Linked DNA regions of Homo sapiens. The protein of the gene in region 3 purifies or fractionates together with the protein of the main gene of each other region. This does not show direct contact. Each region holds a gene or a part of one and is shown on either strand. Other genes may lie near its edges.

The links.
Region 1: the proteins of OTUD7B (region 3) and TNFRSF10A purify together in Homo sapiens (co-immunoprecipitation; one study listed by IntAct). This does not show direct contact.
Region 2: the proteins of OTUD7B (region 3) and MAP3K14 purify together in Homo sapiens (affinity purification with western blotting; one study listed by BioGRID). This does not show direct contact.
Region 4: the proteins of OTUD7B (region 3) and FOXM1 purify together in Homo sapiens (affinity purification with western blotting, with the first as the bait; one study listed by BioGRID). This does not show direct contact.
Region 5: the proteins of OTUD7B (region 3) and NUP155 purify together in Homo sapiens (affinity purification with mass spectrometry; one large-scale study listed by BioGRID and IntAct). This does not show direct contact.
Region 6: the proteins of OTUD7B (region 3) and ACAD9 purify together in Homo sapiens (affinity purification with mass spectrometry; one large-scale study listed by BioGRID and IntAct). This does not show direct contact.

The regions. Positions count from the first base shown.
Region 1 is NC_000008.11:23,201,103-23,204,602, reverse strand, and holds part of TNFRSF10A (tumor necrosis factor receptor superfamily member 10A), read left to right. Parts: intron 1-1,841; coding exon 1,842-1,955; intron 1,956-2,683; coding exon 2,684-2,795; intron 2,796-3,500. UniProt on the Homo sapiens protein: Receptor for the cytotoxic ligand TNFSF10/TRAIL. The adapter molecule FADD recruits caspase-8 to the activated receptor.
Region 2 is NC_000017.11:45,286,021-45,289,520, reverse strand, and holds part of MAP3K14 (mitogen-activated protein kinase kinase kinase 14), read left to right. Parts: intron 1-215; coding exon 216-285; intron 286-2,156; coding exon 2,157-2,367; intron 2,368-2,475; coding exon 2,476-3,090; intron 3,091-3,500.
Region 3 is NC_000001.11:150,000,727-150,004,226, reverse strand, and holds part of OTUD7B (OTU domain-containing protein 7B), read left to right. Parts: intron 1-3,500. UniProt on the Homo sapiens protein: Negative regulator of the non-canonical NF-kappa-B pathway that acts by mediating deubiquitination of TRAF3, an inhibitor of the NF-kappa-B pathway, thereby acting as a negative regulator of B-cell responses.
Region 4 is NC_000012.12:2,867,175-2,870,674, forward strand, and holds part of FOXM1 (forkhead box protein M1), read right to left. Parts: intron 1,581-3,500; coding exon 1,389-1,580; coding exon of another isoform or gene 1,344-1,388; exon of another isoform or gene 1,040-1,343; intron 1-1,039. UniProt on the Homo sapiens protein: Transcription factor regulating the expression of cell cycle genes essential for DNA replication and mitosis. Plays a role in the control of cell proliferation. Also plays a role in DNA break repair, participating in the DNA damage checkpoint response.
Region 5 is NC_000005.10:37,301,607-37,305,106, forward strand, and holds part of NUP155 (nuclear pore complex protein Nup155), read right to left. Parts: coding exon 3,451-3,500; intron 3,238-3,450; coding exon 3,133-3,237; intron 1,809-3,132; coding exon 1,654-1,808; intron 1,303-1,653; coding exon 1,173-1,302; intron 1-1,172.
Region 6 is NC_000003.12:128,907,120-128,910,619, reverse strand, and holds part of ACAD9 (complex I assembly factor ACAD9, mitochondrial), read right to left. Parts: intron 2,436-3,500; coding exon 2,356-2,435; intron 1,648-2,355; coding exon 1,521-1,647; intron 1,277-1,520; coding exon 1,199-1,276; intron 748-1,198; exon of another isoform or gene 600-747; coding exon 471-599; exon of another isoform or gene 357-470; coding exon of another isoform or gene 287-356; intron 1-286. UniProt on the Homo sapiens protein: As part of the MCIA complex, primarily participates in the assembly of the mitochondrial complex I and therefore plays a role in oxidative phosphorylation.

The DNA.
Region 1 (3,500 bases), on a different chromosome or scaffold from region 3:
TGTGTATCTTGTTTTGATTGAGTAGAGTGTTTTATAGACATCTGTCCAGTCTAGTTGTTAATAGTGTTGTTCAAGTCTACTACTTTCTTGTTGATGTTCTTTCTAGATTTTTTTGGTATGAATTCCTATAGGTTAAGGAAACTATGCTTTGCAGTGTGGTTTTCATTGCAAGTATTTTCTCCTACTTTGTTTTCATCTTAGTCAAGATTTCTTCCATGCAGTTTTCTTCCTAATTTTCATATAGTTAACTTTATGCAACTTTTTAGTTTCTCGTGAGACTGAGAAGGTCCTTTCTCTCTCCAAACTTGTAAGAAAAATTTCTCATGCAGTACTTGTGTGATTTCATACTTTACAGTTGACACCTTGATAGACCTAGTCTCTATTTCCTTATAGGGAGAGCATAAGCAAGAAGCTTTATTATTTTTCAGCAGTAACCTTAGTTGCCCCAGCGCCATTACTGAATAATCATATTTTTATCATCGATAGTGTCATCATCATAACACATCAGCAAGGAAGTTTTTCCTTCACAGTGGCACGGTGGCTCACTCCTGTAATCCCAGCACTTTGGGAGGCCGAGGCAGGTGGATCATGAGGTCAGGAGATCGAGACCATCCTGGTGAAACCTAGTGAAACCCCGTCTCTACTAAAAATACAAAAAATTAGCCAGGCGTGGTGGCACGCTCCTGTAGTCCCAGCTACTCGGGAGGCTGAGGCAGGAGAATCGCTTGAACCCAGGAGGCGGAGGTTACAGTGAGCCAAGATCACGCCACTGAACTCCAGCCTGGTGAGAGAGCGAGACTCCATCTCAAAAAAAAAAAAAAGCCTTTATTATTTTTCAGTAGTAACCTTAGTTGCCCCAGCACTATTACTCAATAACCACATTTTTATAATTGGTAGTGTCGTCATCGTAACACATTATCAAGGAAGTTTTTTTTCCACAGTTTGGGTTTTCTAAGAGTATCTTTCAATATCAGTAAATATGAATCAGAGGAGAGGGATAAATAAATGGGCACTGAAAGGGGAGAGTGAGGTCACCTGAAGGGGCGAAGCCCTGGAGGTGAAGGTCGAGCCTCCAGACATGGGCTCCCGCTGGCGACAGCTCCTGCAGGCTGTCACCTCAGTGCCTGGAGACCCTCTGCAATCCAGGGCAGCATGAGGTAGGCCTTCTTTCTGTGGATCATTCTTTGACTCTGTATAGGGAGGACCCTTTTTCCTTCCATTTTCCTCCCATGGCAGGTGGCATGGGCTGTATCTGAAGCCTTCCCCTCATCGCTGTATTGTTTCTGCGCCTGTTTGTACCTTCTACTGACCAAGAGCTCACTGAGGGCAGGGATTAGGACTTTTTGTGAGTTTCCAGGGATGCAGGTGGCATTGCCCTGGTCTCTAGGCCTATGTGGCCATTAATCACTTAAAACACAGCCACTTTGAATTGAGATGTGCAGTGAGTGAAAAATACACTCTGGGTTTCGAACACTTAGTATTCAAAATAAAAGAAAATATCTCAATGTTTTATCTTGTTTACATGTTGAAATGCTAATGTTTTGGATATTTTAGGTCCAAAAAGTACATTGTTAAAATTAATTTGACCTCATTCTCTTTTTACTATTTTAATATGGCTCTCATAGAATTTGAATTTTGCATGTGGTTTGTATTGTATTTCTGTCAGCAGCGCCAGTCAGAGGTGTGTATAGATGCAGAATTGACGACAAGACCAAGCCAAGAAGATGGGATTTCTCTGTCTGGGGTCTACTGATGGCCAAAAGAAGAGTTTCCTAGCCACCGCCACGATCCTCTGGGAACTCTGTGGCAATTCATTCATTGGCTTTTCTCTCCCTTCCCAGGATCTCATAGATCAGAACATCCTGGAGCCTGTAACCGGTGCACAGAGGGTGTGGGTTACACCAATGCTTCCAACAATTTGTTTGCTTGCCTCCCATGTACAGCTTGTAAATCAGGTACAGAATGTGTGGACCTCTTGTCCAGAGGTGGAGTGAGGGGCAGTGAGGTGGGAGTGGTAGCCAATGTGAGTCAGGGAACCAAGTTCCAGCCCAACTTGGTCTTCATCATACCCTGTTCCATGGTTATGTCTTAGGTCCATAAAATGAAACAGAAAGAAATCATTTTTATAATGCATGCCACCTGGTAGTGCAAACTATCAGCTCCAAGAGGGTAGGGGCATCATTACAGCACAAAGAAGGCCTGGCTGAGTGGACAGGGCTGAGTTTCAGCGGTGGTACGGGTCTGCTCTGGGGCCACGCTCCCCCTGGGCTGTGTGCTCCTGGCAGGTTCTCAGGCTCACTCAGCCTTCAGTTTCTCAGGCGCCTCCCTCTTCCTCAGCAGGCTGGGTTTTTGGGAAGTCACCCAAGGGCTCCTCTTCTTGCAGACTCTCTCACATACCATGTGCCTCCTTTGCTACTGACCATGCGATCTAAATGGTGCTTTTTCCCTAATCTGATGTAATAAATAATGAATCATGGTCCTTTTGTATGACTCCAAGTGTTGGTGACAGCTGAAGGGTGGGTGTCCTGTGTGAGCCCGAGTGTGCTGGTGCAGAATCTGGCCCTCAGAACTCCTTGGCAAACTGAGTTGAGCTGAGCTGAGGGGGAGGGAGTTGGGGTGGTGAGGAAAGGTCAAGGGACACGTCAGGGAAACACATTCCCAAAACCTTGTACTCTGTCATCAGATGAAGAAGAGAGAAGTCCCTGCACCACGACCAGGAACACAGCATGTCAGTGCAAACCAGGAACTTTCCGGAATGACAATTCTGCTGAGATGTGCCGGAAGTGCAGCAGAGGGTGAGACAACAGCCAAGGGGCTCCCAGCAGCCTCAAAGAACCCACAGAAGCAAGGAACCCTAAAAAGACCCGAGTCTCCTTGTACCCGTATCTATCAGCCCTGACCCCATGGTGCCTCCACCCCCATAGGTGTCCCTGAGCCTGTGGCGTCTCCTGAGCCTGCAACCTGCCCCTCCTGGTCCATCTGCCTGTCCCCACCCCTGTCCCCTGCAGTGGCCCCTTCTCACCCCTCCCCAGCACTAGTCCCCTTGGCCAGGCTGACTTGTTCACTAGGCACAGGAGGCCATGACTTAGGGCCCACAACAGAGGTACATGAAATATTTTATCTTGAAATCATAAGAAAATAATGGTATAGAATCCAGCTGGGGTTATATTTATATTTAAACAAATTGAGTCATAAAATGTAATTTTTAATATTTGCTTTTAATTCAAGAAGACAGAAATGCCCACAGCCCGCAAAAATCATAATAAGGCCATGGGTGGAGCTCCTTCAAGTTCCCATGAGGACCTGAGCCCACCCAGCCAGCCTCACCCCTGGCCCCTGATTTCTCAATAAGTCCTGTCTTTTTCCTATTTTGGTTTTGGAAGCAAAGAGTAATTGCTCTTCTCTGGTCCTCCAGTGTTTGCTGTGATTGAGAGGAACCAGCAGACAGGTGGGGGCGAGGGCTCACTTGTACTGTGGGTTAACTGGAGGAAGGGGCTCAG
Region 2 (3,500 bases), on a different chromosome or scaffold from region 3:
CTGAGGCCGTGGTCTGCTCTTGACCAGTAAGCTGAGAAGCTGGGGAGAGACAGTGCGGGAAGGAGGCATTGGTGGGGAGGTGACTGCCAGACAGGGGTTGTCTGGAAAGGAGGGGAAGGAGAGGCGCCAGAGGGGATCTCTGTAAAATGTCTCTCCCCTAAGTGCTAAATTCCTATTTTTTCTCCTCTCTGCTAATCCAACTCCTTTTGCTTTAGGTGAGAATAGCCAAGAGTTCAGCCCCACCTTTTCAGAACGCATTTTCATCGCTGGGTCCAAACAGTACAGGTAAGCAGGGGAGACAAGCCTGAGTGGGAAGGTGGGGACTGGACCCAGCGCCCTCGTCCCCAGCACTTGCCTGGGCCGCTCCTGCTGACCCCGGGCTCCCTCCCTCAGCACCTGTGGTTCAGCTCCTGGAACTCACCCAGGCTTTCCTGGCTGAGCCGCTCTCTCAGCCAAATAAGCTTTTCAAAGGCTTTTCACAGCTTGTGGCTGACTGCCTCTGGGCCACATCAACTTGACATTTTATTTTTATTCTCCTCAGAGTCCTTAATGCACCCCCTCGTTTCCCATCAACAGGGAGGGTGCTGGGAACAGAAGCTGCTTCCCACTCTTGCGTGACCGTGAGCGCAGGCCGGGTTGGTGGGGGGGGCCTTCCACTGTCCTCTATGGGAGAAACCTGCTGGTGCCTTTTCTCCTGGGAGATGCACCGAGTAGGGATGCGGGCGGTAGAAAAGGAGGGGACAGATAGACTTGGTGGCCCGGTAGAAAGGAAGCCAGGGTGGGGCTGAGTCTGTTCCCAGGCTCTGCATTCCCCCACAGATGATTTTTTGAAACAAGAGTTCAAGTGCTGGGCACAATGGCTCTCACCTATAATCCCAGCACTTTCTGAGGCCGAGGCAGGTGGATCACGAGGTCAGGAGATCGAGACCATCCTGGCCAACATGGTGAAACCCCGTCTCTGCTAAAAATACAAAAATTCCCTGGGCATGGTAGCGCATGCCTGTAACCTCAGCTACTCAGGAGGCTGAGGCAGGAGAATCGCTTGAATCCAGGAGTCGAAGGTTGCAGTGAGCCGAGATTGTGCCACTGCACTCCAGCCTGGTGACAGAGTAAGATTCTGTCTCAAAAAAAAAAAAAAAAACAAGAGTTCAAGCTAGAAACAGCTCCTTCCCCTATCACCAGGCAGGTTTTGTATCATTGGAGTTTGGAACCTGCTAGTGATAAGATTGTGGGGAGGGCAGCTGGCTGCCTTGGAACCAAGAAATGCTCAGTTTGGTGGGATTCCTTCTGCTGTCCTGGGTGCCTTTTGGCCCAGGGTAGGAGCCTCTGATAGACACACTTCTTTCAGCTGTCCAAGAGAAGCCTGTAGGCCTCCAGTGGTCCCCAGGACTGCCATGAGTCTGCCTTCTCCATGGGGGCAGAAGATGAGGCCAAGGGAGGGTGGCTGAGGCCATGATCTGCTCCACAGCTGTTCTGCAGCAACCCATCTGTTGCCGGGTCCTTTAATACTTGGCAGGGATCCCAGTCCAGTTAGAGCCATGGCAGTGATGAGCCCCGAGGCCAGCAGAGAAGGGCAGGCTCCCCAGTACCAGGCAGCAGCCCAGGCTGTTCACCTTCAACAGCAGCCAGGGACCCCCAGGAACTGTGAGAATGGAGGTGACCAGCCTTACCTGTTCCTCCATCCGGAGGCAACAGAAACAAGCTCTGCTCAGTCAGAGCTGAGAGGCCTGCCATGAGCGTGGCCCCCTCCTAGGAACTCTCCAGGGGCAGCTCACCTTGGAGAGCAGTGAGCGAACCGTGTCTGCTCCCCTGACTCTCCCCAAGAAGTGCTGAGTCTGTACCCCATCACCATAGTAACAAGCACAGCTTCTCGGCAGCTTGCCTTGGGGCCAGACACTGAGCTGGGCTTTTTAAATGAACTAAATTATTGAAACTTCATTTCCACCCTGTATGGCAGAAAATACCAAACCCATTTTATAAGTGAGATAAGTGAGAAAACAGGTTCCTTGGGATTTAGAAACCTTGCCGCATTCACACAAGGAATGGCAACCTGGGATTTGACCTTGGATCTGCAGGAGTCCAGATACAAGTGTCTGGACCAGTCCATCTTCCTGCTTCCTCGTGCTCAATATGCAAATCTGTCCCTTTTGTGACAGCCAGTCCGAGAGTCTTGATCAGATCCCCAACAATGTGGCCCATGCTACAGAGGGCAAAATGGCCCGTGTGTGTTGGAAGGGAAAGCGTCGCAGCAAAGCCCGGAAGAAACGGAAGAAGAAGAGCTCAAAGTCCCTGGCTCATGCAGGAGTGGCCTTGGCCAAACCCCTCCCCAGGACCCCTGAGCAGGAGAGCTGCACCATCCCAGTGCAGGTGAGACCCTCCACCCACTGCCCAGACCCCAGGTTCATGGGGCCTTGAAATTGGAGCCTGTCCCTGGGCCCTGGCCCTCTGTGCTGATAGCTGTGTTTCCCCCCGCAGGAGGATGAGTCTCCACTCGGCGCCCCATATGTTAGAAACACCCCGCAGTTCACCAAGCCTCTGAAGGAACCAGGCCTTGGGCAACTCTGTTTTAAGCAGCTTGGCGAGGGCCTACGGCCGGCTCTGCCTCGATCAGAACTCCACAAACTGATCAGCCCCTTGCAATGTCTGAACCACGTGTGGAAACTGCACCACCCCCAGGACGGAGGCCCCCTGCCCCTGCCCACGCACCCCTTCCCCTATAGCAGACTGCCTCATCCCTTCCCATTCCACCCTCTCCAGCCCTGGAAACCTCACCCTCTGGAGTCCTTCCTGGGCAAACTGGCCTGTGTAGACAGCCAGAAACCCTTGCCTGACCCACACCTGAGCAAACTGGCCTGTGTAGACAGTCCAAAGCCCCTGCCTGGCCCACACCTGGAGCCCAGCTGCCTGTCTCGTGGTGCCCATGAGAAGTTTTCTGTGGAGGAATACCTAGTGCATGCTCTGCAAGGCAGCGTGAGCTCAGGCCAGGCCCACAGCCTGACCAGCCTGGCCAAGACCTGGGCAGCAAGGGGCTCCAGATCCCGGGAGCCCAGCCCCAAAACTGAGGACAACGAGGGTGTCCTGCTCACTGAGGTAACTAATCCCCCGGCACCTGTATATGTCCCTCTACCAGCAACCTGGGGGATGCTTTTCTCTCTTTATCAGAGTCACTCTTGCCTGTGGTGACAAATCAAACAGTAGGACAGTGCTCATTGTGGATGAAAAGTATCATCTCTTATTCCGCCAATCTCACTTCTCACAGCCTTTTTAGCGTCTTCTGTTCTGAGTTCTTCTGGTTGGTCACCTCCTGCTTGCTGAATGTGGGCACTGCATTAATAGTACACATGCTGAGGACAAGGGGAATCAGCCAGGAGCCACTGGAGATGTTATCATGGCCCCCAGAGACGGAAGATGAGGATGGGACCTGTTTTCACCACCCACCTCCTTCCCTTTTTCCTCTTGTTAACTTCCCAAATAATTTTATAACTTTAAATGATTTTATC
Region 3 (3,500 bases):
GATACTAATACACAGGTTGGCTGGGAGGGAATGGAGATTGACACTGGGGGTGTGTGAAGTGATGAGGCCCGAGTTAGAGTTGTGGAGGGTAGGCTAAGGAGAGGAAAGAGTGAAAAAGAGACTGTGAAGGAAAAATGGAAATTAATGAGGGGTGGATGTGGGAGATGAAGAAGGGTGATGAGTCAACTACAACTGTGACACGTTGTGCCTGGGTGTCTGAGACATTGAGTGAAATAAAGAAGTTAGGAAGCTTTCCTCATTTTGGGGAAATATGATGAGTATAATTTGCGATGTGTTGGATTTAAAGTGGCAATGAAATGTCCAAATGAAGGCTGTCCTGGGTGTGAGCTGGAGTAAAGATGGGGGTAGGTTTGGAAATGCAGTTTTGCAATTCATGGCCTAGATGTGGTAGCTGTAGCCAAGAGAATTAATAAGCTCTCTGAGGACTAAAGTTTAGGGAAAGAGCAGAAGGGCAAAGAAAATGGTACTGATAAACCTAAACACGTCTAAACCTAAACATGTCTCCTATCTTGTAAACACCATCCTAGGCACTGAGATGGAGGTAAGGGAGACAAGGAACCCACGAGGAGCGTATGGGTCTAGTGGGAGGAGACAGATATGTAAATATATAGATAGAATGAAGTGTGATAGATGCTGTGATAGAAGTATGCAGCAGGGAGAGTGGGAGCCCAAGGGTCAGTTCTGCCTTGGGCATGCTGAGGTTGGAAAGAGCCTCCCTGAGGAGTTAGCATTTGAGCTGAGTCTTGAAAGATGAATTAAGGATATACTCTACAGATGACAAGAATTACATTCCAGTCTGAGAAAATACCATGAACAAAAGCTTAAAGGAATGAAGGCCAGACTTCTTCAGGTAACTTTTACTTAATCATTATGGCTGGAGGATGGGATGGAGGGCAGGCTGAAGAGGTAGGCAACGCTGGATCATACAGAGTTTTTATCTTTTTTTTTTTTTTTTTGAGACAGAGTCTTGCTCTGTCACCCAGGCTGGAGTGCAGTGGCACAATCTCAGCTCACTGCAAGCTCCGCCTCCCGGGTTCACGCCATTCTCCTGCCTCAGCCTCCCGAGTTGCTGGGACTACAGGCGCCCGCCACCATGCCCGGCTAATTTTTTGTATTTTTAGTGGAGGCGGGGTTTCACCATGTTAGCCAGGATGGTCTTGATCTCCTGACCTCGCGATCCGCCCGCCTCGGCCTCCCAAAGTGCTGGGATTACAGGCGAGAGCCACCACGCCCGGCCTGGAGCTTTATCTTATACTGCAGTATATCAGGAGCCATTTAATACGTTTCACATCCTAGAAAGATTATGTCAGTGGTGTGTAGGGTGGATTGGAGATGGAGAAAGCAGAATTCCTTTCAATAACTTCATTATACTGAACACATTTATTGAGAGTGATCATATTTACAGATTCATGGAATCAGACAACTGGCGGGGCTGCGATGCTTTCTTAGTTTTCCTCATTCATTTTCAAATAGAATACCTGAGGTTTACTCAGGATCACAGAAGTGGTTCTGTGATAGCTTAGTCTAGAATTCAGTCTTCAGCATGTACTAGGTGATTAATAAAGGTGAATTCACCTCTCTCTTCTCTCCCAAGTCCCATTTCAGTGTTTGTGTCATTCTGCCACATTGCATTGTACTAGCAGATAGAAGGACTTAACATCATTCCATTCTACCGTCTTTTTTTAACCAGTCCAAAGTGAATAGAGGTATTTTCCTAGGTCTGACTGAGAAAGATGTTCCCTGAGAGTACCATTGGGAAGAGGGGCAGTTCGGTGCCCTGGACTGGGCTGAATGAGGTGTTAGGATTTTTCAGCTGTAGTGATTCAGATGTAGAAGAATGTCAAGGTATTTGTTTTGTTGCATGTCTTTATCTCTGCCACTAAGCTCCCTTTAAGTTGTTTTCTTTTAAACTTAGTTTTATTTGTGCCACTGAAACTTGTTAAATAAGCTATGATAAATTGGGCACTGATTAAAAGTATATTTATCTAAAAAAAAAAGAATATCTAAACAAAATTTAGAAAAGTTCAGGGAAAAAACCCAAACAGAAACAATTTTGAGCCTACATCCCAAATTTGATGGACATTAACATTTTGTCATATTTGTTTTAGATGTCTTACTCTCTTTAAAATATTAAATACTCAGATTCTGCATCTTCCCTGTATTTTCATTTTCATTGGATTTTTGTGGAGGGAAATTGTTTGGTTTTAAAGTGCTAAGTGAGAGTTTGGATTTTGTGTTTTAGTCACTTTTGCTGGAGGAGAACAGAACAGGGTAGAGGGCATCCTCTAAGTCCTTAGATTCCCCTGGGAGAAATTGGGACTTAAGGACGTGTGGAAGGATGGATACCTTCCATTGATAGGCCTTCCTCAAAACTTGTCTGAGTTGTGATTTTTAAATTCTTTTCTCTGGGCTCTGTCAGCATCTTCCCCAGAGAAGGGCCTTGGTTTGGAAGCTGTCCACTTAAGCAGAGCTGCCAAGTCTTAATTCTTTCTCAAGTGGGCAAGGGTACATTTTGTTTTTGTTTGTGAGTATTTGGGAGAAGGAAGGGGTGGGTAGAAAGGAGGCACAGAATAGCTACTCACAGTGAGTACTTATCTGAATTCCTGTGTAACTGGAAGCTTTCTTGGCTGTTTTAGGGGAGATAACTTGGTTACACTAGCATTTAAATTATGTGGGAAGGTGGTTTTTCACTCCCCTCTGCTATCTGATTTGAGATGGCAATAAACCTTCTTGTCCATTTTTGTCAGTCCTCACTCTACCCTGTTCTAAGCGCTGCTGTTTGAGGGATGTGAAGGCTCCTCTTCAGTCTAAAACTGAACAAGTCAGATATCTCCTTATAGTTTTGGGAAACCATTCTGCTCCTGACTGTTTTTGTGTTGACTCCTCTATTCATCAAATCACCTGGCCCTTTATTAATTTTACAATTTTGCATAATGAGATATTTCAAACATTTAGAAAAGTTCAGGGGAAAAACTCAGGCAATTTTGAGTCTACAACCCCAACTTGATGGACATTAACATTTTGTCATATTTGTTAGATGTCTTACTCCCTTTAAAATATTAAATGTTATAGATATAGCTGAAGTTCCACCCTGCATCCTTTCCTCCTTCCTCTTTCTCAAGAAATGACTACTGGCCTGAATTGATGTGTTCATTCCTTCATGTTTTATACTTCCTCTGCCCCGCCACATCTTTATTTATTTATTTATTTATTATTTATTTATTTTTGAGATGGAGTCTTGCTCTGTCACCCAGGCTGGAGTGCAGTGGCACGATCTCTGCTCACTGCAACCTCTGCCTCCCGGGTTCAAGCGATTCTCTTGCCTCAGCCTCCCGAGCAGCTGGGATTACAGGTGCGTGCCACAGTGCCCAGGTAATTTTTGTATTTTTAGTAGAGACGGAGTTTTGCCCTATTGACCAGGCTGGTCTTGAACTCCTGACCTCAAGTGATCTGCCCACATTGGCCTCCTAAAGTGCTGG
Region 4 (3,500 bases), on a different chromosome or scaffold from region 3:
GAAATTAAGGCTGGGTGTGGTGGCTCACGCCTGTAATCACAGTGCACTGAGAGGCTAAGGCAGGAGGAGTGCTTGAGACTAGGAGTTCAGACCAGCCTGGGCAACATAGTAACCAGCCTGGGCAACTGTCTCTACAAAAAAAAAATTAGCGGACTGTGGTGGTGCACCTGTTATCCCAGCTACTTGGGATGTTGAGGAGGGAAGAGCTTGAGCCCAGGGGGCTGAGGCTGCACTCCAGCCCAGGCAACAGGGTGAGACCCTGTCTCAAAAAACAAACAAACAAAAAACTAGGAAAGTAAGCTGATGGAAGGGAGTAAAATTAAAAGTTCTACCATGAATTAGCCAGGCGTAGTGGCGGGCGCCTGTAGTCCCAGCTACTCGGGAAGCTGAGGCAGGAGAATGGCGTGAACCCAGGAGGCGGAGCTTGCAGTGAGCCGAGATCGCGCCACTGCACTCCAGCCTGGGTGACAGAGCGAGACTCCATCTCAAAAAAAAAAAAAACATAGTTCTACCATGAGGGGCCAGGTGTGGTGGCTCATGCCTGTAATCCCAGCACTTTGGGAGGTCGAGACGGGTGGATCATTTGAGGTTAGGAGTTCGAGACCAGCCTGACCAACATGGTGAAACACTGTCTCTACTAAAAATACAAAAAAATTAGCCAGGCGTGGTGGCGCATGCCTGTAGTCCCAGCTACTCGGGAGGCTGAGGCAGGAGAATCGCTTGAACCTTGGAGGCGGAGGAGGTTGCAGTGACCTGAGATCTGCCATTGCACTCCAGCCTGGGTGACAGAGCGAGACTCTGTCTCAAAAAAAAAAAAAAAAAAAAGAAAGAGTTCTACCATGAGGAAAACAAAGCACACTTGACTTGGAATTGAGCACCCGTCAGAAGACCTCATTTGTGGCTCTGACACCGACCAACTGCGTGAGCTATGTTGACTCACAGGCATCTCGGTCTTTCCATGAATGAAGTGAAAGGAAAACCCCTGCCCACTAGAAATGCTATGTGACGCTACAGGAGATGACATCTTGGGTCATGAGGCTCACAGACAGCATTTTTTTTTTTAATCAAGACATTTTCATAAAACTACTTAGCCACTCTAGCTGCTGGCATCTAGGACGGCTGTTGAGTGTAGCAGAAAAGTGGGCTTGAGTGCTACATTGAAGACCCTCCATGGACTTTAGGTAGTAACACATGAAGTAGTTAAGGAGCTCTTCTTAATGATTTTGCCTGGATTCAATAAGATTGAGTCACAATCTAAAAGATACATTTGTTTATCATTCTAGTGTCCTTTGCACTTAACTGCTGTCCCAGATACAAGTTGCAGTACAGCACTGGAGAGACTGTCAGGCTGGGCTGACCTTGATTTTGGTTGCTGTGGGACACATTACCTTCCAGCCTGGCTTGGCAATGTGCTTAAAGTAGGGAAAGTGGTCCTCAATCCACGTATAGATGTCTTTCAAAGTCATGCGCTTCCTCTCAGTGCTGTTGATGGCGAATTGTATCATGGCCATGTAAGAGTAGGGTGGCCGCTCAGACACAGAGTTCTGCCAGGACGCTGATGGTCTCGAAGGCTCCTCAACCTGAGGGTTATGACACAGGGAATGACATGAAAGAGTTCATGAGAAGCACCCCCAACCCAAGCCCTTGAAGAACATCTAGAGAAACCTTTATCCCATAGGACGGTCTAGAAACAAACTCATCTGAGACCACTATCTCATAGAATAAAATTTTAGAGTTGGGAAGAATCTTGGAGATGATCTAGCCTAGACCCTAGCCAATAAGAAACTGGTTTTGTCATCCATCATTTTGTTGAATTTGGAGAAAATCCAGTCCCTTCCAGTTGAAATTTCTTAGGAAAGTTTGAGTATGTACTTTGATTCTCAAAGCATTGATGTTACACTAAAACCACGCCCGTTTTTCAGACTTTTGGGTCTAGAAACCTAGGTCTTAGTCCCATTTCTGTTCCTGATGTGCTGTGAATAAACGCATCTCATTTCAATGTTTGTATGAGAGAAACATTCTCAAGACTATGAGTCAGACAATGTCTGCAAAGCACACAGTTAGCTAAGTTTTAGGCAAAGAGCTGATCAATCACATTTCTTTTTCTTTTTTTGAGACAGGGTCTCACTGTGTCACCCAGGATAGCGTGCAGTGGCTGGATCACAGCTCACTGCAGCCTTGACCTTCCCAGGCTCAGGTGATCCTCCTGTCTCAGCCTCCAAGTAGCTGGGACTACAGGCATACACCACCACGCCCAGCTAATTTTTTTTTTTTTTTTGAGATGGAGTTTCACTCTTGTTGCCCAGGCTGGAGTACAATGGTACGATCTCGGCTCACTGCAACCTCTGCCTCCTGGGTTCAAGCGATTCTCCTGCTGCAGCCTCCCAAGTAGCTGAGATTACAGGTGCCTGCCACCACGCCCAGCTACTTTTTTTGTATTTTTAGTAGAGATGGGGTTTACCATATTGGCCAGGCTAGTCTCGAACTCCTGACCTCAGGTGATCCACCCACCTTGGCCTCCCAGAGTGATGGGATTACAGGCATGAGCCATTGCGCCTGGCGATTTTTTTTTTTTTTTTCGTATTTTTAGTAGTAGAGACCAGGATTTTGCTATGTTGCCCAGGCTGGCCTAGAACTTACGGGCTCAAGCAATCTGCCCACCTTGGCCTCCCAAAGTGCTGGGATTACAATTGTCAGCCGCTATGCCCGGTCTCATTCACATTTTTAAAATTGGAGATATTACTTTCTAAAGTACACAAATTTTATGTATATAGCACAATTAATATTTACTTACATATACACGCATGTAAATTTTCACTTTTTTTTTTTTTTTGAGACAGAGTTTCACTTTTGTTGCCCAGGTTGGAGTGTAATGGCACGATCTTGGCTCACCGCAAGCTCTGCCTCCTGGGTTCAAGTGATTCTCCTGCCTCAGCCTCCCGAGTAGCTGGGATTATAGGCATGTACTACTGCACCCAGCTAATTTTGTATTGCTAGTAGAGGCGGGGTCAGGCTGGTCTGGAACTCCCGACGTCAGGTGATCCACTCACCTTGGCCTCCCAAAGTGCTGTGATTACAAGCATGAGTTATCGCGCCTGGCCAAATTTTCACTTTTAAAGATTGTTGAGCTGGAGGCTATGATCCTAAGCGATTTAATGCAGGAACAGAAAACCAAATATTGCATGTTCTCACTTATAAGTAGGAACTAGGCTGGGTACGGTGGCTCACGCCTGTAATCCCAACACTTTGGGAGGCTGAGGCGGGTGGATGACGAGGTCAAGAGATTGAGACCATCCTGGCCACCATGGTGAAACCCCATCTCTACTAAAAATAAAAAAATTAGCCGGGCGTGGTGGCGGGCGCCTATAGTCCCAGCTACTCGGGAGGCTGAGGCAGGAGAATCACTTGAACCTGGGATGCAGAGGTTTCAGTGAGCAGAGATTGTGCCACTGCACTCCAGCCTGGCAACAAAGAGAGAATCCGTCTCAAAAAGAAAAAAA
Region 5 (3,500 bases), on a different chromosome or scaffold from region 3:
TTGAAAGAACGGATCCTACTATCTGACTTTAAGTTTGCTAAAATAATGTATAAATGAAGATTTCTATCATAATAGGCTAATATTATCATAACAGACATCAACTAAACATAATAGATTTCACAGGAAGTATACTGTGGCAGACTCCTTGCTGCCCAATACTTATACCTTCCAAGACTGTAGCCAAATGGTTAGACTATACAGCTCAGCCTCCTCTGTAGGGGAGGTATGGCCATACAACCAAGTTCTCTTCAAAGGAATGTGAGTAGAAGTAGTGTGTCATGTCAGGGCTATAGTTTTTAAGACAGTGAATGTGTTCTTTCTTTTCCTTCCACCCTCTGCTGAAGATAAAGCAGAGGCCCTAGGGAATGGTAGTGCCAGAAAATAGAACTTGGGTTCCTAAATCAACCACACGGAGGAAAGCCAGCTGCCAATCAGGAAGACTCACCTTGGATTTTTGTGAATAAGAAACAAACTTTTGTATTTGGACGATGGTATGTTTTTGATTCTCTTAGTTAGGGAATTTTAGCCTACTCTACTTCATACATCTACTTATTTGCTTCCAAAATAAATGGTGAATGTGATGTAATCCACTTGCTGTTGAAACAGTTGGGAAAAACATTTATTTTTTATTATTATTATTTTTTGAGACAGAGTCTCAGTCTGTCTCCCAGGCTGGAATGCAGTGGTGCAATCTCAGCTCACTGCAACCTCCGCTTCCTGGGTTCAAGCAATTCTCCTGCCTCAGTCTCCCAAGTAGCTGGGACTACAGGTGTGTGCCACCACCCCCGGCTAATTCTTGTATTTTTTTAAGTAGAGACAAGGTTTCGCCATATTGGCCAGGCTGGTCTCGAACTTCTGACCTCATGATCTGGCTGCCTCGGCCTCCCAAAGTGCTGGGATTACAGGCGTGAGCCACTGCACCCAGCTGGGAAAAACCTTTCGAAGTGCCAAAGAGAAAACTTCTAAATTATAGCAATGTTTTTATGACCCAAGTGCATCCTTAAAAATCTTTAAGATTTATATCTAAACATAAAAATAAATATAAACAGACAAAAGCAACTAGAATAATAATGACTTCTCAGACCTATTACTTACCAAGGGAAGAATGGAATGTGGAATAACTATGTGGCTAGTACTCAATGTGGACACAGCTTAAGATCTTTAGCACTTACCTCCATTTTTTCTTCTAATTCATGAAGAAATTCACCATCGGCAGCTATTGATGAAATGGCAGTGGAACTTTTGGCACTAAGAATGGCTCGAGCAATGTACTCTAGTCGCTGCTGAAGTGAAATTTCTGTGCTAGAAGGGAAAACGCTTATTTTTAGTTACACAATTTCTTAAGGATTGATGATACAAATACGTCAATTAGTATGTACTGTTTCATACCAAACACACATAAAAAGCCATCTGAAACTTGAAAAAAAATCATTAGATTTAAAAAAAAATCTATTTTAGATTTCTCATAAGAGAGATCCACAATTTTAGACAACACATAAAGAAATACATTTATGACTAAAAAGTAACATCCTATTTAAAAAATTTAGGTCAGTATATTAAAACTTAGATTCTTCTAAAATTAAAGAAAACTGAATGTAAGTACATATAGCTCAGTTTTGAATCATTCTTCACAATAAGAATATTATGCCATACCTATGCATGTCAGCCAGTCTGGACAGTACACGAGCAGCATTACTGAAACTTCTGTTCTTCTCGTAATACCGCCAGAGTAAATCCATATAACGAACTCTGTTTTGATCAACTTTGGCCATTCGGACTAGATGTGGCTCCAGAAATGGAGAAGCAACCTAGAAATTATATAGTTATTCAGAAAAATTTTCTAACCACCTACAGATAATGTTCCTGATAAGGAAAATATAGTATTTTTAAGTCAACTACAACTTTGCCTTGTTTTATGAAAACAAGCAAAATTATAATCCAATACTAACAGATAAAAGAGAGGGCAAATTTTCTTATTATAAACAATTTTTGTTTTACCACAGTTAGCATAAGAGTTTCCAAAACAATTCTATTAGGTTGATAACAATAATTTAGTAGGCTGGGCATGGCGACTCATGTCTGTAATCCTCGCACTTTGGGAGGCCGAGGTGGGCAGATCATGTGAGCTCAGGAGTTTGAGACCAGCCTGGGCAATATATGGCAAAACCTCGTCTCTACAAAAAAATTAGCTGGGTGTGGTGGTGCGGGCCTATAGTTCTAGTTACTCAGGAGGGTTAGGTGTGAGGATCACCTGAGCCTAGGGAGGTCAAGGCTACAGTGAGCCATTATCGTGCCATTGCACTGCACTTCAGCCTAAGCTACAGATTGAGACCCTGCCTCAAAAAAGAAAAGGAAATTTGGCCGGGCACAGTGGTTCATGCCTGTAATCCCAGCACTTCGGGAAGCTGAGGTGGGCAGATCACCTGAGCTCAGGAGTTTGAGACCAGCCTGGCCAACATGGTAAAACCCCGTCTCTACTAAAAAGATATAAAAATTAGCTGTGCGTGGTGGCGGGTGCCTGTAATCCCAGCTACTTGGGAGGCTGAAGCAGGAGGATTGCTGGAACCCGGGAGGCGGAGGTTGCAGTGAGCTGAGATCATGCCACTGCACTCCAGCCTGGGCAACAGAGCCAGACTCCATCTCAAAAAAAAAAAAAAAAAAAAAAAAGGGAAATTTACTATAAAATTACAAATTTTTAAATAAACTTTGATAACACAGCTATTGATTCCTAGACATTGAGCTCAAAGGCATTATTGAAATTATCAAATGCTATGTATTCATTAAACAGATTGAGGAACACTGAAACTTAGGGTAGGTAAAAGGACATATCTGAAGTCACAGTGACTTAACAGCAGAGTTAAGATAAGATGACCTACAGGACTCATATTCATAATCCAGTGATTTCTACCCCGCAATACAAACTATCCCAATCAGCTTCGAATTAACAAGAAAATTGGAGCAGTAGCCTACTTTGCCCCTTAGGAAAAGATACTGCATTACTCAGCTTTATACTAACATCTAATAGCAGGCATGGGATGAGAAACTGAATTTTTTACATCTATATATGTGCTTAAATCATTGAGTTATGCTCCTTAAGAATAATTAACACAACTGCAATAAAAAAAGATTTACCTGTAGCAGCTTATCTGCAAGGTCGACTTGTATTAGCCAATTATAAAGGGCAATACTAAAGAGCTCATCCTTGGATCGCTGTGACAATTTAAGCATTTGTTCAAACTAAAATAAAGAAAATAGTAAAAATTAGCAGTTAAAGGCTCTGTTTCTGGGCATCACAACCCTTTAGCCCTATAAACTCCAGTAAGAAATCAAGAATCCTTACATGATAACTTCTAAGAACTACCACCTTTCCCCAAGATGACTGTGCTACCATTACCATGGAGAACTTCTAAACAGTGTATTCTCAGAATGAAAATATACTATGTCCCTTACATGATGTCCTGCTTCTTCATTACTCAGCATATTTGGATCAGATGACAACA
Region 6 (3,500 bases), on a different chromosome or scaffold from region 3:
GAGTCACCCCGTCTTGGGTTCTAATTCCAGCCCTGATCCAACAGCCTTTCCCCAACAGCAAGTGACTCAACATCTCTGACCCTGTTTCCTCTGAAAGGCAGATGTCACAATCCTGGTATCTGCAGGTGCTCTGGAAAGTGCAGGCAGAGATCCTGGTATACAGTGGGTCCTCAGAGACTGCACCCGCCTCCCTCCAGCACAGCGGGCAATGTGCAGGGTCTGTCCCTTGCTGGGGGTAGGGGCACTGGGATCAGGAACCCCTGTCACTCACCCCCTCTTCTCTCAGTCAGGAAGAAGAAAGGGAACAGCCCCATCTCCTGAGCAGCACAGACCCTCCCACGGCCACCGCATGGTGAACCTGCACAGCCTCCCCCACACCCGACCACACCCTCCTCAACAATCAACTTCATTAAAGTGCAGCAGGACAGATGGCAGCAGCCAGGCCCTGTGTGAGGCTGGGCTGGGCTCACCTCGTGGTCGTGGTTGCGGAGCCCAATGCGGATGGAGCGGCTGGCCCGCGACAGCACGGCCGTCATGCCATACAGGTTGATGAGGATGTTGGCCACCCGCTTCAGTACCAGCTGCTCCTCCATGATGGTCTGGGATCACAGAGGCTCCAAGTGGGGACTCACTACCTAGACCAGTCCCCCACATGGTCCCTCCCTGGGCTGCATCTTTGCCTGTCTTAGTCTCCTGTGTTCCTTGAGAAAGTGGAGTCAATAACACCTTTCTCTTCAGGTTGTGGGAGAACGGCTCCCAGCCACCTTCTGTTTTCCCTTCTCTTTGAGCTCTAGATTCAGGGAGGGGTTAAGGCAAGACCAGGTCCCAGAAGCTTGGCTGAGACCAGAAGCCAGTGCTTACTGTGCTACTGCCACCTTCAGCAGCAAGGGCCCCACCAATCAGGTCCCTAGATTCAGGCCCCAGGTGGAGCTGCCCTCCCGATTCTAGGGAGCCTCTCTACCTGAAAGGTGCACAGAAAAACACTGCAGAAAACTCACCCAGCAAGGGTACCCATCCGAGTAGCTAAGTGGGCCCCAGGCTGACAAAGTCAGCCTGACCTCACCACCCCATCCCTCCAGGGTGATCAACATTTCTGTTCTAGGCCTGGTCCCAAAGGATGCTTGACAAAAAGTAGTCTCATGAATGCTGGCCAAATTGGAGGACCGCTTGCGACCCAGGCCTGGGAGGGCCTGGTTACCTTGCCAAAGCGGAGCAGCAGTGTCTCCACGGTCCGGCCGAAGCAGTAGGTGTTCTCCTCAAACTTGTTGGCACTGTCCTATTAACCAAGACAGGACTCAGTTCAGCACCTCATCCCTACAGTGCCCTGTCCTGTCTCACAGCCCGGGTACCAGGCAGAGATGCCCCATCTGGGGGAAGCAATCCAGGGTGTCATGGACTAGCTGGTGTTCCCCAACTTCCCCTGGAGAAGCCCAGACCCCCCACAGTGAGATCTTTTCTGCCACAAGGAGATCTGGCAGGAGGGCATTGAAATAGGGGGTATGCCTGTTAGGCCCACTCACCGCAAGACTGGGGTGCACAACTCCATGGTTGCCTGTCAGCCCCAGGTCCACAGTTCGGCCCAGGGAGTCCCGAAGCCTCCGGCCAACGGTATCCATGACTGTGCTCACTTTGGCCTGTTTAAGCTCACTGCAGAAAGTCCATGGTCCTGTGACTGGAGGCCTCGCTGCTGGCGCTCACTGTCCAGCAACATGGCCCATTCGGCACCCAGAAGCTCCGTGCCCCCCTCTGGCCTGGGTATGCTGGGCCCCTGGCTACAGCCTGAACCCCCCCAAACCCACCACCTGCCAGAGAGCAGCCAGTCTCCTCAGGGGAGCCACACATATGCTCCCCCATGAGGGGTGGAGTCACAGCCAGCTTCCCAGCAGCTGTCTCCTGTGAAGGAGACAAAATGCTACTAGCAACCTGTACTTGGCCTCCAGCAGTGATTTTGGATTACTGTGCCCCTAGGGTGGGGGTGGAGGGGAGCATGAGGGGAAGAAGGGCAGAGAAGAGAAACACTGGCTTATGTTGGCTGTGAGGCCTGGCACCTTTAAAGGGACACCTCTCATTCTTCAGGTTCTGAAAAACCAGCTGCCTCTAGTGTGAGGGACCAGATGGGGGATACGGTATTTATGCTGAAGCTGTAGGGTGCTGTGGCCATAAGGGCAGGGCAGCGAGGGCTTCCCTGGGCAGCAAGCCCCCCACTACCACAGGGGAAGGTCCCCTCCACAAGGCTGCGCCACACCCCCATGCCCCCACTCCAGGTCAAGGCAGCTCTTTCCTCCCACTGCCCTGGACTGGCCCCTGCTGGGCAGGTATGGGACCTGAGAAGCACACGGTGACAATGGCACCTACTGGATCCTGGTAGTCAGGATGCGGCCGGCATGCTGCAGACCCGTCAGGGCGATGTACATCCGGAGAATCTCATTGGTTCCCTGTGGTCAGTAGTGTAGAGGTCAAAGGCTGCCCCCCGGCCAGGCAGCCATGGTAGTGCCACGTGTGCTGGGTAGAGCCGGCCACTGCCTGCTTGCCCATTGCCACAAAAGCCACTGCTCCTGAAGTAGCTGGGAGCAGGGCTCTGGCCAGGGCTCAGGGAGTGCACAGGGATGAGGAGGGAGGTGACCAGATGGCCATGAGCTCCCACTGGGACCCCCCCACCTCTCCGTGACCAGCCTCACGTGTGTCAAGCCTTTCTCCAAGTCTCCAGGTCCTCTGTAAAATGGAAACCAGCTTTCCCCGGGTGGTGAGGGGTGCTGATGCCTGGGGCTCAGCCAGTGCCAGACAGACATTGCTGGCTCCAGGTGGAGGCCAGATTCCTCACGGAAGCCAGAAATTGCTGAGTGGCAGCTAGAACCTCCTCAGTGCCAGGTGTCAACACACCCAGAGGGCCACATGCTCCCCACTCCCCCAACCCATGATTCTGATCAGTGAGAGGCCAGTGGGCTTCTGCCCACTCTGCACAATGGTACTGTGTGTCAGGTGCAGGGGCCTGACCCAGGCTACACAGCCAGCACTAGGGACTGAGGACTGTCCCCTGCAGTCAGGCTGACATCACGGACAGCAGGACTCCCTACAGGAAAAGGGGGGACTGCAGGGGCCTCCTGGCAGGACCACCCAGCTCCGAGCAGGCTCCAGACAGGAGCTCTCACCCTACATCGAGAGCCCTGTGTTCTTCCAAGGCCTTGAGGGCTTCCTGAACCCTGCTGACCACCCCAGCCCTGGAGAACCCCAACCCTCCCAGGCTAAGGGAAGGGCCTTTGGAGAAGACCCTTTGCAGGGCTGAGACCACTCCAGTGCCCTCAGGCTGGCCCTTGCCCCGTATGTCCACTGCAACAGTGGAGATGGCTGGAACCCAATGGGTAGGCCAGGAACAAAAGCAGCCAAGGAGGCCTCCCACTGGGCAGGACGGCCCAGGAGACAAGACTACACTCCCAGAGGCTGATGATGCCTCTCATCACCAGACCTGCTGCTCAGGCCCAAACCCTCTCCCTGTCTCAGGC